3 linked regions of the Homo sapiens genome follow. The protein of the gene in region 1 purifies or fractionates together with the protein of each later gene. This does not show direct contact. Each region holds a gene or a part of one and is shown in the gene's direction. Other genes may lie near its edges.

The links.
Region 2: the proteins of ACSL1 (region 1) and HAVCR2 purify together in Homo sapiens (co-immunoprecipitation; one large-scale study listed by IntAct). This does not show direct contact.
Region 3: the proteins of ACSL1 (region 1) and SLC2A12 purify together in Homo sapiens (co-immunoprecipitation; one large-scale study listed by IntAct). This does not show direct contact.

Annotation. Positions count from the first base shown.
Region 1 is NC_000004.12:184,823,786-184,827,537, reverse strand, and holds the start of ACSL1 (long-chain-fatty-acid--CoA ligase 1), read left to right. Parts: upstream 1-1,569; 5' UTR 1,570-1,622; intron 1,623-2,301; exon of another isoform or gene 2,302-2,372; intron 2,373-3,752. UniProt on the Homo sapiens protein: Catalyzes the conversion of long-chain fatty acids to their active form acyl-CoAs for both synthesis of cellular lipids, and degradation via beta-oxidation. Preferentially uses palmitoleate, oleate and linoleate.
Region 2 is NC_000005.10:157,091,989-157,095,640, reverse strand, and holds part of HAVCR2 (hepatitis A virus cellular receptor 2 precursor), read left to right. Parts: intron 1-181; coding exon 182-335; intron 336-3,652. UniProt on the Homo sapiens protein: Cell surface receptor implicated in modulating innate and adaptive immune responses. Generally accepted to have an inhibiting function.
Region 3 is NC_000006.12:134,028,499-134,032,150, reverse strand, and holds part of SLC2A12 (solute carrier family 2, facilitated glucose transporter member 12), read left to right. Parts: intron 1-2,429; coding exon 2,430-3,652. UniProt on the Homo sapiens protein: Insulin-independent facilitative glucose transporter.

The DNA of each region.
Region 1 (3,752 bases):
TTGAAGCCACTTAGTGTGTGGTACTTCGTTCCAGCAGCCCTTGAAAACAATAGACCACAGAACTTGGGAGGTGCCTGCAGAGGTTCTGGGGCTGAGGGACCGGTTGGAGAAGAGGAAAAAGGAGAGGCAAAGATGACAAAATCACGGATGGGGAGGCGAGATCTGGACAGAAAAACCAGGGATTAGCCAAGCGGGAACCAGTGAAAACGAACGTGGAGTCCATTTTTTCTAGATCTGGAAGATGGAGATCTAAAAGGACTGAGCTGCTAGAGAGGTTGCTGGTGTGTGCGTTGTCCTCACCCCACTGCACCACTGCGCCCAGCACACTGTGGGAGACACCCAGGGAAAGTCCTTCAGTTATTTGTGGGAGTGAACTGCAGTGTGGCTGAGGCCTGGAGCGAACCACGGTCAGTTTCCCCTGCCTGCAGCCCAGGCATAGCCCTGCGTTGGTTGTGCCCACACTCTGGGGGCAGCCTGAGTGCCAAGTGTGGTACTGCTCTCACTAGCATTTAACCTCTGTGCCCCAGCTTCCTCTTCTGTGAAAGGACAGTAATGACAGTACCTACCTCACTGGGTTATGAAGATTAAATAGAATAATGTGTACGCAGTGTTTGTAGCAATGCCTGGCATCAAGCACTGGGTAAACAGTATCTATTATTATCAAAGGCCTTTACGACAACAATCATTCTTCAAACGGCCCTCCAGCGAACGCTGGGCGCAAACTCCACGGTAACGGGGACCAATGTTGTTAGAGGTTGAGGTTCCTGGTAGGTCCCAGGTGCTAAAAGGAAGAGCAGCCTTTGGGATGTGAGCCCGAAAACCATCGTGTTGGCTTCTGAAGCCCCAAGATGGGCATGGCAGGGACGCGGAAGCCCTCAGAACCGCGGAAGCCCTCAGAACCGCACAGCAGGTGGCCGCCGTGGTGCAGCGCGCAGTCGGCCCTCAGCTCCCCTGCACCGGCGCGAGCTGCGGGCGCTGCCCACGTCAGGCTCTGCAGACACCAGACAGAAAAGGTCTTCCGGCCAGGGAGCGTGGGGGAAACCCTGTGGGGCCGCGCCCGTCAGTGTCAAGGAAAAACGGAGAGGAAGGCCCTTGCCTCCAGGGCCCTCGCAGCAGAATTCTGCCCGGCCTGCCAGGAGGCCAGCGGGGCACGGGCTGAGGGTGCAGGATCCGGAGGGCGCCGCCCGCCCCTCGGGCATCGCGGGGCCCAGGGTCCGCGGGGCCTCTGAGCTGAGGCGGTCCAATGTACCCTTTGTCCTTCCTCAGATTCATTATGAAATCCGAGGCAGTCTGGGCGACTCCAGCGGCGTTCGCCCGCCGCAGCCTCTCGACCGCCGGCCACCCGCCAGCCACGCGCGCCCAGACAGGAGGGCGGCCGGGCGCTCGGCGGGGCGGGGCCTGCCGGGGGCGGGGCCTGCGGGCGGGGCGGGGCCGCGGGAGGGCGGGGCCGGCGCGGCGAGCGCACCAGCAGCATCCTGGCTCAGCCGCGGCGGTGGCGGGGGCGCAACCAGCGGGCCGAGGCGGCGGCGCCAGCGGCGCCTTAAATAGCATCCAGAGCCGGCGCGGGGCAGGGAGTGGGCTGCAGTGACAGCCGGCGGCGGAGCGGCCGGTCCACGGAGGAGGTGAGTGCGCCCGCCGTGCGGAGCCGCGCCTGCTCCCGCGGCGGTGCCCGGGCCCCGGCCGAGGCGCCGGCTGACGTTGCCCTTCAGGGCCGAGCCCGGAGCAGCGGCCGCCGCGGAGGCGCGTGAGCCACCCCAGGCTCGTGGGGCCGCGCCGCCTTTCCGGCCTCCTGCCCGCGGCCCCGCTTCCCTCGGCAGCCGGAGGCCTCCGGGGTGCCCGTGCTGCCGCAGCTTCCTGTGTCTGAGTCGCGGGCGGCGCGGGCGCGGGGCTGGTGCGCGGCCGGGGATGCGCGCGGGACCGACCCTTGTGTGTGCGGCGGCGGGGACCGGCCCGGCGAAGCAGCCGGAGGCCGCGCTTCGGCTGGGAGGAGGTGGCCCAGCTGGGCCGCTGACGTTGCCCTCGTCCGCGGCCCCCGCCTGCCCAGAGGCCGGGCTCGCGGGCGTTCGGACCGCGCGTGGGGCGAGACTGCACTCGCGCCCGCTGAGATGCCGGCCCCACGCAGCGCGGCGGCACGAGGCCCACAGGCAGCTCAGAGGCCGCTGCCAGAGGCAGACATTCTCTCGGTGACTCCAGAGGAGTGCCCGTGGCCCTTGCACTTGGCCGTGGAGTCATTGATCTAAGGAGTGCTGGCATTTTTTGAAATTGAGAAGCAAAGATGATGTCTGTCACCTGGCAGCGTAGACGGAGAGTGGCGGTAGATGACTTGAATGGACACGTGGATTCGAGTCTGGGGACAGGCGTTCCCCCAGTCGGTGCGTTGTGAGAGTGTGGAAACCCCTTCCCCACTCAGTCCAATTTCAAGGTTATGGAGCATAATTAAGAGTGACCATTCTAAAAGCGTTCTCTAGTGCCCTGGCTAAGACTTTTAAGCTTCTTGGTGCAGGAGTGTCTAAAGTCCCGCGACTCTCACTGCCCTGTCTTTTATTTTCTTGACCTTTGATTAGCGTTGAGAGAAACTGGTTAAATCTTGCAGTTTCTGCCACCCATTTCACAACTTAACCTGTGATTGTCCCAAAGAAAACAATTATTGGCTTCTTGCTAGCAAAAAAATCAAAGGCTTCCGGTTGATTGTTTCTTTCTTTTTTTTCTTTTTTCAAGTGGACGTGGAAGGTTAGGCTGGCTAAAACTTAAAGTTTGAGTTGTAGGTCTGTGCTGGGTAGGCTTGAGAAGATGGAGCTTTTTAAGGAACCATTGCTCGCCATCAGATTGGAGCCAGACAGTGCAGTGTGATATAGTGGAAAAGGACCAGGTCTTGGGAGACTTACTTTCTTGTTCTGACTCAACTCGGAAAACACCTCCCTAGTCTGAGGCCCCCCTCCTTATATTTGTGAACAAACTGCATTAGACTAAAATCTTTCACGAGTCCAAATTCTGCGACTAGAAAAATAAACTTGTTAGCCGCACACCTTATACCTCTCCCCTTTAAAACAGACATATTAAAGACTTCTGTTTTCTGAATTTACTGTAAACAGAATACTTAAAAAAAAATTACCCAGACAGGCGTGGTGGCTCACTGTAATCCCAGCACTTTGGGAGACCGAGGCGGGCAGATCATTTGAGGTCAGGAGTTCGAGACCAGCCTGACCAACATGGAGAAACCCTATCTCTACTAAAAATACAAATAATTAGCCAGGCGTGGTGGCATGCATCTCTAGTCCCAGCTACTCGAGAGGCTGAGCCAGGAGAATCGCTTGAACTCAGGAGGCAGAAGTTGTGATGAGCTGAGATCCCGCCACTGCACTCCAGACTGGGCAACAGAGCAGGACTCTGTAAAAAACAAAACAAAACAAAAAATTACCCTTCCCCACAATTATAAGCATTTTGGCATATTTCCTTCCTGTCTCTGTTGTTCCTATTTTGGCAGTATTTTTATTGTTATCGCAGGCAGCCTGACTGAAAAGAAATCTGGGCTTCTAAGTTTTTGGTATTTAGGAGGTAGATACAAGTGACCCATGCATGTAGGGTTAGGTATCTATTTATACCATGCAGGTAGAGTTTTCATAGCCACCTCTACTTTTGGGTGAAGTTTAGGCTAACTGAAAGTGTACCAGCATGCATGGTGTATGCAGAAAAATGAACGTAATTCAGATTATGTGATAGTTTTCTCTTGTTGCCATTATATATAACCCAGG
Region 2 (3,652 bases), on another chromosome or scaffold:
GGGAGACCCTTTCTTGGGTTGGCTTGAGTGTTGGCTACAAGGTGACAGATCAAAGGTGATTTGAAGGACTCAGCCATCCTGTGATGTTGTAAAAGGGATGGTCCAATTCACAAATCTTGAAGCTGATTACACAAGCGATTTCTAGCTGTTTTCTGCTTAAATCCTGTTTGTGTTTCCATAGCAAATATCCACATTGGCCAATGAGTTACGGGACTCTAGATTGGCCAATGACTTACGGGACTCTGGAGCAACCATCAGAATAGGCATCTACATCGGAGCAGGGATCTGTGCTGGGCTGGCTCTGGCTCTTATCTTCGGCGCTTTAATTTTCAAATGTAAGTGTTTTTGTTTCTCTCTCCCTCTGATAACAAATTCTTCAGTGAGAACCAGTAAAAACCTAGATAGAAATGCAAATTCATGTTTATACCCAAAGATGATTAGACTAAATACCCTTTTGTCCATCCAAATCCTAACAATAATGGCTAATTTTTATTTAATATTTATTGTGTGTCAGGCAGCCACTGCGTTAAATGTTTTACATACATTTTATCATCATTACTGTCTTATGAGATAAGGAATAGTACCATCCCCATTTTACAGTGAAGGGAAGTCAAGCTTAGAGTAAGCTGCCTTCCCGAGGTTTCAACATCAGTACCTGGCAGAACCGGAAATCAAATCCAGGCAGGCTGATTCCAGTAAACTAATTTCTTTAATTCATGAATATGTCTAGGTTTGTTACGAAACACAACAACAAAAAACACTTCCTTCTGTGCACTTTTCTGTTATTGGTTTCTCAGGCATACCTCTCTGGCAGTAGACTGCAAGTCCCTTTAACACTGGGTCGTGACTGGGGTTAGAGAATGTTTTCCTCCATCATGGTACTTAGCACATAGCTTTTTCTAAGTTACTTATCCCTTTTTTTTTTTTAAACTAGCAAACAAACAAAAACAAAAAAACAGGCCCGGCGCAGTGGCTCACGCCTGTAATCCCAGCACTTTGGGAGGCTGAGGGGGGTGGATCATTTGAGGTCAGGAGTTCGAGACCAGCTTGGCCAACATGGTGAGACCCCATCTCTACTAAAAATACAAAATTAGCCGGGTGTGGTGGCGCATGCCTGTAATCCCAGCTACTCAGGAGGCTGAGGCAGAGGAATCACTCAAACCTGGTAGGTGGAGGTTACAGTGAGCTCAGATCATGCCACTGCACTCCAGCCTGGGTGACAGAGTGAGACTGTCTTAAAAAAAAAAGTAATAAAATATAAATAAATAAGCAAATAAATAAATAAATAAATACAATGGCCAGGTGCAGTGGCTCATGCCTGTATTTTCAACACTTTCGGAAGCTGAGGTGAGAGGATCAGTTGAGCCCAGGAGTTTGAGACCAAGATCAGCCTGGGCAGCAAAGCAGGATCCTGCCTCTACAACGTAATAATAATAATAATGAGCTGGGCATGGTGGCACACACCTGTAGTCCCATCTACTCAGGAGGCTGAGGTGGGAGGATCACTTGAGCTCAGGAGGCTGCAGTGAGCGGTGATTGCATCATTGCACTCCACCCTGGGCAACAGAATAAGACAGTCTCCAAAAAAAAAAAAAAAAAGAAGTGTGTTGAAGTTGATGAATTTTGATGGAGAATTACAGTAGGAAGCCATCATCACAATCAAGATCTAAATACTTCCAGTACCCCCAAAACCTCGCACACTTTTGTTTTTTTGGAGATGGACGCTGGAGTGCAGTGGCACGATCTCAGCTCACTGTAACCTCTGCCTCCCGGGTTCAAGTGTTTCTCCTGACTCAGCTTCCAGAGTAGCTGGGACTACAGGCATGTACCACCACGCCTGGCTAATTTTTATATTTTTAGTAGAGACAGGGTTTCACCATGTTGGGCAAGATGTTCTTGATCTCCTGACCTTGTGATCCGTCCACCTCGACCTCCCAATGTTTTGGGATTACAGGCGTGAGCCACTGTGCCTGGCCACTCACACACTTTTATAATTGTGTCTATTTTATTTTCTTTTAGGGCAGAAACCAAGTCCTTATGCCCCAGAGCGTAATATGACATAGCAGCCTTTCTTACTAATACACAAACAGGGACTGTGTGTGTAGAGTGAGCAATCACCTCAGATTAGCTCAAGACTAAAGGGTGTTCCTAAGATATATGGGACTTCTAGGGCTAAAACTGGAACAGTCCAAGAAAAACATGAGTTGGTCCCCCCACTAACTGTGGACTGAAGCTGCCAAGTGCTTTACGTGCATTAAATTCTCGTAACTACCCTATGAGATAGGTACTAATATGTTTCTAATGGAGAATCAGCATGCTAAAAGGTTAGGTCACTTGCCTGCATTTACACAGTTAATTGATAGATACTGGATTTGAAACCAGGACTGTCCTGCTCCTCATCTTTATGGTTTCTGCGATTATGGTTAAATGGATTATTCAGAAAAAGAAACTACCCCACCCACACTTACCTGGGTTTATTCAGAGATAGCCATGGAATTTTTGAATTGATCACATGAATATATATATATGTATATATATGTATACACATATATATATATATTTATTATTATTGGGACAGAGTCTTACTCTGTCACCTGGGAGCTGGACTACAGTGGTGTGATCTTGGCTCACTTCAACCTCTGCCTCCTGGGTTCAAGCAATTCTTGTGCCTCAGCCTCCCAAGTAGCTGAGATTACAGGCATATGCCACCACACCTGGCTAGTTTTTTTTTTTTTTTTTTTTTTTTTTTTTTTTTTTTTTTTGGTAGAGACAGGGTTTTGCCATGTTGCCCAGAAAATTGGTCTCAATCTCCTGAGCTCAGGTGATCCTCCTACTTCAGCCTCCCAAAGTGCTGGGATTACAGGCGTGATGAATATATACATATTTAAAAATAGAGGCTGAGCACGGTGGCTTACGCCTGTAATCCTAGCACTTTGGGAGGCCGAGGTGAGTGGATAACCTGAGGCTGGGAGTTTGAGACCAGCCTGACCAACGTGGAGAAACCTCATCTCTACTAAAAATACAAAATTAGCCGGGCATGGGGGCACATGCCTATAATTCCAGCTACTCGGGAAGCTGAGGTGGGAGAATCACTTGAGCCCAGGAGGCGGAGGTTGCAGTGAGCTGAGATCGTGCCATTGCACTCCAGCCTGGGCAACAAGAGTGAAACTCCATCTCAAAAAATAAATAAAATAAAATAAAATAAAAATAGAAATGAGATCTTGCTATGTTGCTCAAGCTGGTCTCAAACTCCTGGGCTTAAATAATCCTCCCACCTCAGCCTCCCAAAATGTTGGGATTATAGGCATGAGTCATTGCACTTAGCCTCACTTGAGTATTTCCAAAACAGACTAGGGATTGTTAAGGAGCACTGATAACACTCACTACTTTTTTGACTTCTGCCATGGCTCAAAGTAAAACTTTGAGCTTTACTATTATATATATTAGAGACCACTTTATATATATATGTGTGTGTGTATATATATATATATATATATATATAATATGACCATAATTTATACATATTAGCACTTATTCTAGTTTGTATAAAGAGTGATGGGATCTAGAGGAAATCTGATGCTTTGTACACACACATATATGCCACTCCAAAAAAACATGGCTACTGAGAAGTACAGATAAGAAAGGCCTGTTT
Region 3 (3,652 bases), on another chromosome or scaffold:
AGTATTTGTGGTAGAGCTTTAGATCACCTTTATTTGACCTGCTTATTTCACTAGAGCTGAATAGCATTTTTAACTATACCCTCCCCCAACCCCGAAAAGGCAGCCTTAGCTCAGCCTATGAAAACCGTGTGTGTAATCACATTTCTAACATTTGACTTACACCTCAGTTCTGATTCTTCTCCATCTCCTTTGCTGGCACTAGTCTTCTAAATATTGGCATTGCCTAGGTCCCAGTCTTGATCATGCTTTTCCTTTTCCCCTATTTTATCTTCCTAAGTGATCTCACCCATTCCTGTGGCTTTAAATACCAAATGTGTGCTGCTGGCTTCCAAATACATATGTCCAGGCTTGACCTATCTTTAAGCTCCAAATCTGTATACCCAATCCCCTACTTAACATTTTTACCTGAATGTCTTACAGATAAAATAAATAAACCATTTTACTAAGTCCAAAATGAAACTTTTGATTTTTGCCCCTCCTCTTATCACCACTCACAACCAGTTCTATTCCTAATCTTCCCTATGTTGGTATGTTGCGCTACACAGTATATAGTACAATGCCCTCTACATCTCTCAATGGGTGTTGGCCCCATATAGTACTGTATTGAGTATATCAAATATTGTAAAATCACCCACCCACCTGCTCAAGCCACAGAGCCATCCTGGGTTCTGACCCATTTTTTATCCCCCATCTCCAATTCTTGAACAAGTGTAATGTTTTTTTTGTTTGTTGTTTGTTTTTTGTTTTTTGTTTTTTTGTGAGATGGAGTCTTGCTCTGTTGCCCGGGGTGGAGTGCAGTGGCATGATCTCAGCTCACTGCAACCTCTGCCTCCTGGGTTCAAGTGATTCTCCTGCCTCAGCCTCCTGAGTAGCTGGGACTACAAGGCATGAACCATCATGCCCAGCTATTTTTGTACTTTTAATAGTGATGGGGTTTTGCCATGTTGGCCAGGCTGGTCTTGAACACCTGACCTCAGGAGATCCACCCACCTCAGCCTCCCAAAGTGCTGGGATTACAGGCGTGAGCCACCACATCCAGCCCTGAACAAGTGTAGTGGTTTTTAGCTCCAAAATAAGTCTTGAATCTGCCTACTTATCTCCAGTTCCACTCTTAACACCCAAGTCTAAGCTACCATTATCTCTTGTCCAAACCAAGGCAACAAACTCCTCCCTGCTACCAGTCTTGCCAGTCTTGCATTTTGAAGAACTAATCTCTACATAGCAGTGAAGGTGGACTTTATAAATAAGAAACCTATAGCGTCAATGCCCTCTACACCTCTCAGTGGGTGTTGGCTCCATTATACTTGGAACACAATGAAAAGTCATCACTGTGACCGACAAGGCCCTACTTGAAGTGCCCCCTCTGTACTTATCCAAATTCATTTTAAGCCCTTTCCGTCCTACCGCTCCAGGCTCACAATGTGCCCCACATGTTATATGTTGGCCATCTGACAGTTCCTAAAACATAATGAGAACTTTCCTGTCCTAAGGCCTTGGAAATTACTTTCTCCTGGGCCTGAAATACTCTTCCCTCTGTTGCTTTTTTGTTTTGTTTTATTTCTATTTTGACAAGTTGCAAACATATAACAAACATCTGTGTTCCTACCACCAAAAATTAATAGTTACTAACTTTTTGACATTTTTCCTTGGATTTGAACATTAACGAAAGAACAATATAAAGGTAAATTCTCCTTGTTCTGCCTGTGTTCCATCCCCCTTTCTCCTTACTCAGAATGAGTAAGGGATATTGCTGGTTCCTTACACTACATACATTTCTTCCTTCCTTCTGTTTAGCAAAACCTTGACTTTGTTAAGGCATTCACACACTGCCCACTCCCACCTCCACCCTCTGCCCCAACACCCTCATGTGTTCAGCAGAGGCCATTTGCAGCACGACTGTGGCCCAGGAGATAAGAGGGCAAGTTTCCTGGAGGCTGTGTTTCATTTTGACCCAGGCTATCCAGCAAGGAGGCTGTAGCACTTCTAGAGGCTCCTATCCTCTCTCTCCTGCCCTCAAAGATTTGCCTTTAGAGAACTGGAATGGGACCAAAGAGTCAGGCTCTTTGAATTTCTGATCCACTGCCAAGTCATGAACCAAATGATGTTCTTGTTTGTTCAGTCTTCATCATGTGTCATCTGCTTATCTCAACATCACTGTCTGATCTAAACCAAAAACATCAACATCATAAATAGAAGGAAACTGGACTTCCTACATGTCTCCATGCCTATCCTCCCAAAAAAGAAAGAAAAATGATTTCTCCTTCTATATCAAATCATTTTTTGGTTAGTGTATTATTTTATCATAATTGTGTGTTCGTTTAAACCCAGTGCTATGAAAGACTTCTACAAGGTTAAATCTCCGCTCAAATACAAAATGTTTAAAATCTCAACTGAGAACTGACCTCCCTGTCTCTTCTCTCTGCTTGCAGGCTGCGGCATGTTTACCTTCCTGTCATCTGTCACTGCTGCTGTCAGTGGCCTCCTGGTGGGTTATGAACTTGGGATCATCTCTGGGGCTCTTCTTCAGATCAAAACCTTATTAGCCCTGAGCTGCCATGAGCAGGAAATGGTTGTGAGCTCCCTCGTCATTGGAGCCCTCCTTGCCTCACTCACCGGAGGGGTCCTGATAGACAGATATGGAAGAAGGACAGCAATCATCTTGTCATCCTGCCTGCTTGGACTCGGAAGCTTAGTCTTGATCCTCAGTTTATCCTACACGGTTCTTATAGTGGGACGCATTGCCATAGGGGTCTCCATCTCCCTCTCTTCCATTGCCACTTGTGTTTACATCGCAGAGATTGCTCCTCAACACAGAAGAGGCCTTCTTGTGTCACTGAATGAGCTGATGATTGTCATCGGCATTCTTTCTGCCTATATTTCAAATTACGCATTTGCCAATGTTTTCCATGGCTGGAAGTACATGTTTGGTCTTGTGATTCCCTTGGGAGTTTTGCAAGCAATTGCAATGTATTTTCTTCCTCCAAGCCCTCGGTTTCTGGTGATGAAAGGACAAGAGGGAGCTGCTAGCAAGGTTCTTGGAAGGTTAAGAGCACTCTCAGATACAACTGAGGAACTCACTGTGATCAAATCCTCCCTGAAAGATGAATATCAGTACAGTTTTTGGGATCTGTTTCGTTCAAAAGACAACATGCGGACCCGAATAATGATAGGACTAACACTAGTATTTTTTGTACAAATCACTGGCCAACCAAACATATTGTTCTATGCATCAACTGTTTTGAAGTCAGTTGGATTTCAAAGCAATGAGGCAGCTAGCCTCGCCTCCACTGGGGTTGGAGTCGTCAAGGTCATTAGCACCATCCCTGCCACTCTTCTTGTAGACCATGTCGGCAGCAAAACATTCCTCTGCATTGGCTCCTCTGTGATGGCAGCTTCGTTGGTGACCATGGGCATCGTAAATCTCAACATCCACATGAACTTCACCCATATCTGCAGAAGCCACAATTCTATCAACCAGTCCTTGGATGAGTCTGTGATTTATGGACCAGGAAACCTGTCAACCAACAACAATACTCTCAGAGACCACTTCAAAGGGATTTCTTCCCATAGCAGAAGCTCACTCATGCCCCTGAGAAATGATGTGGATAAGAGAGGGGAGACGACCTCAGCATCCTTGCTAAATGCTGGATTA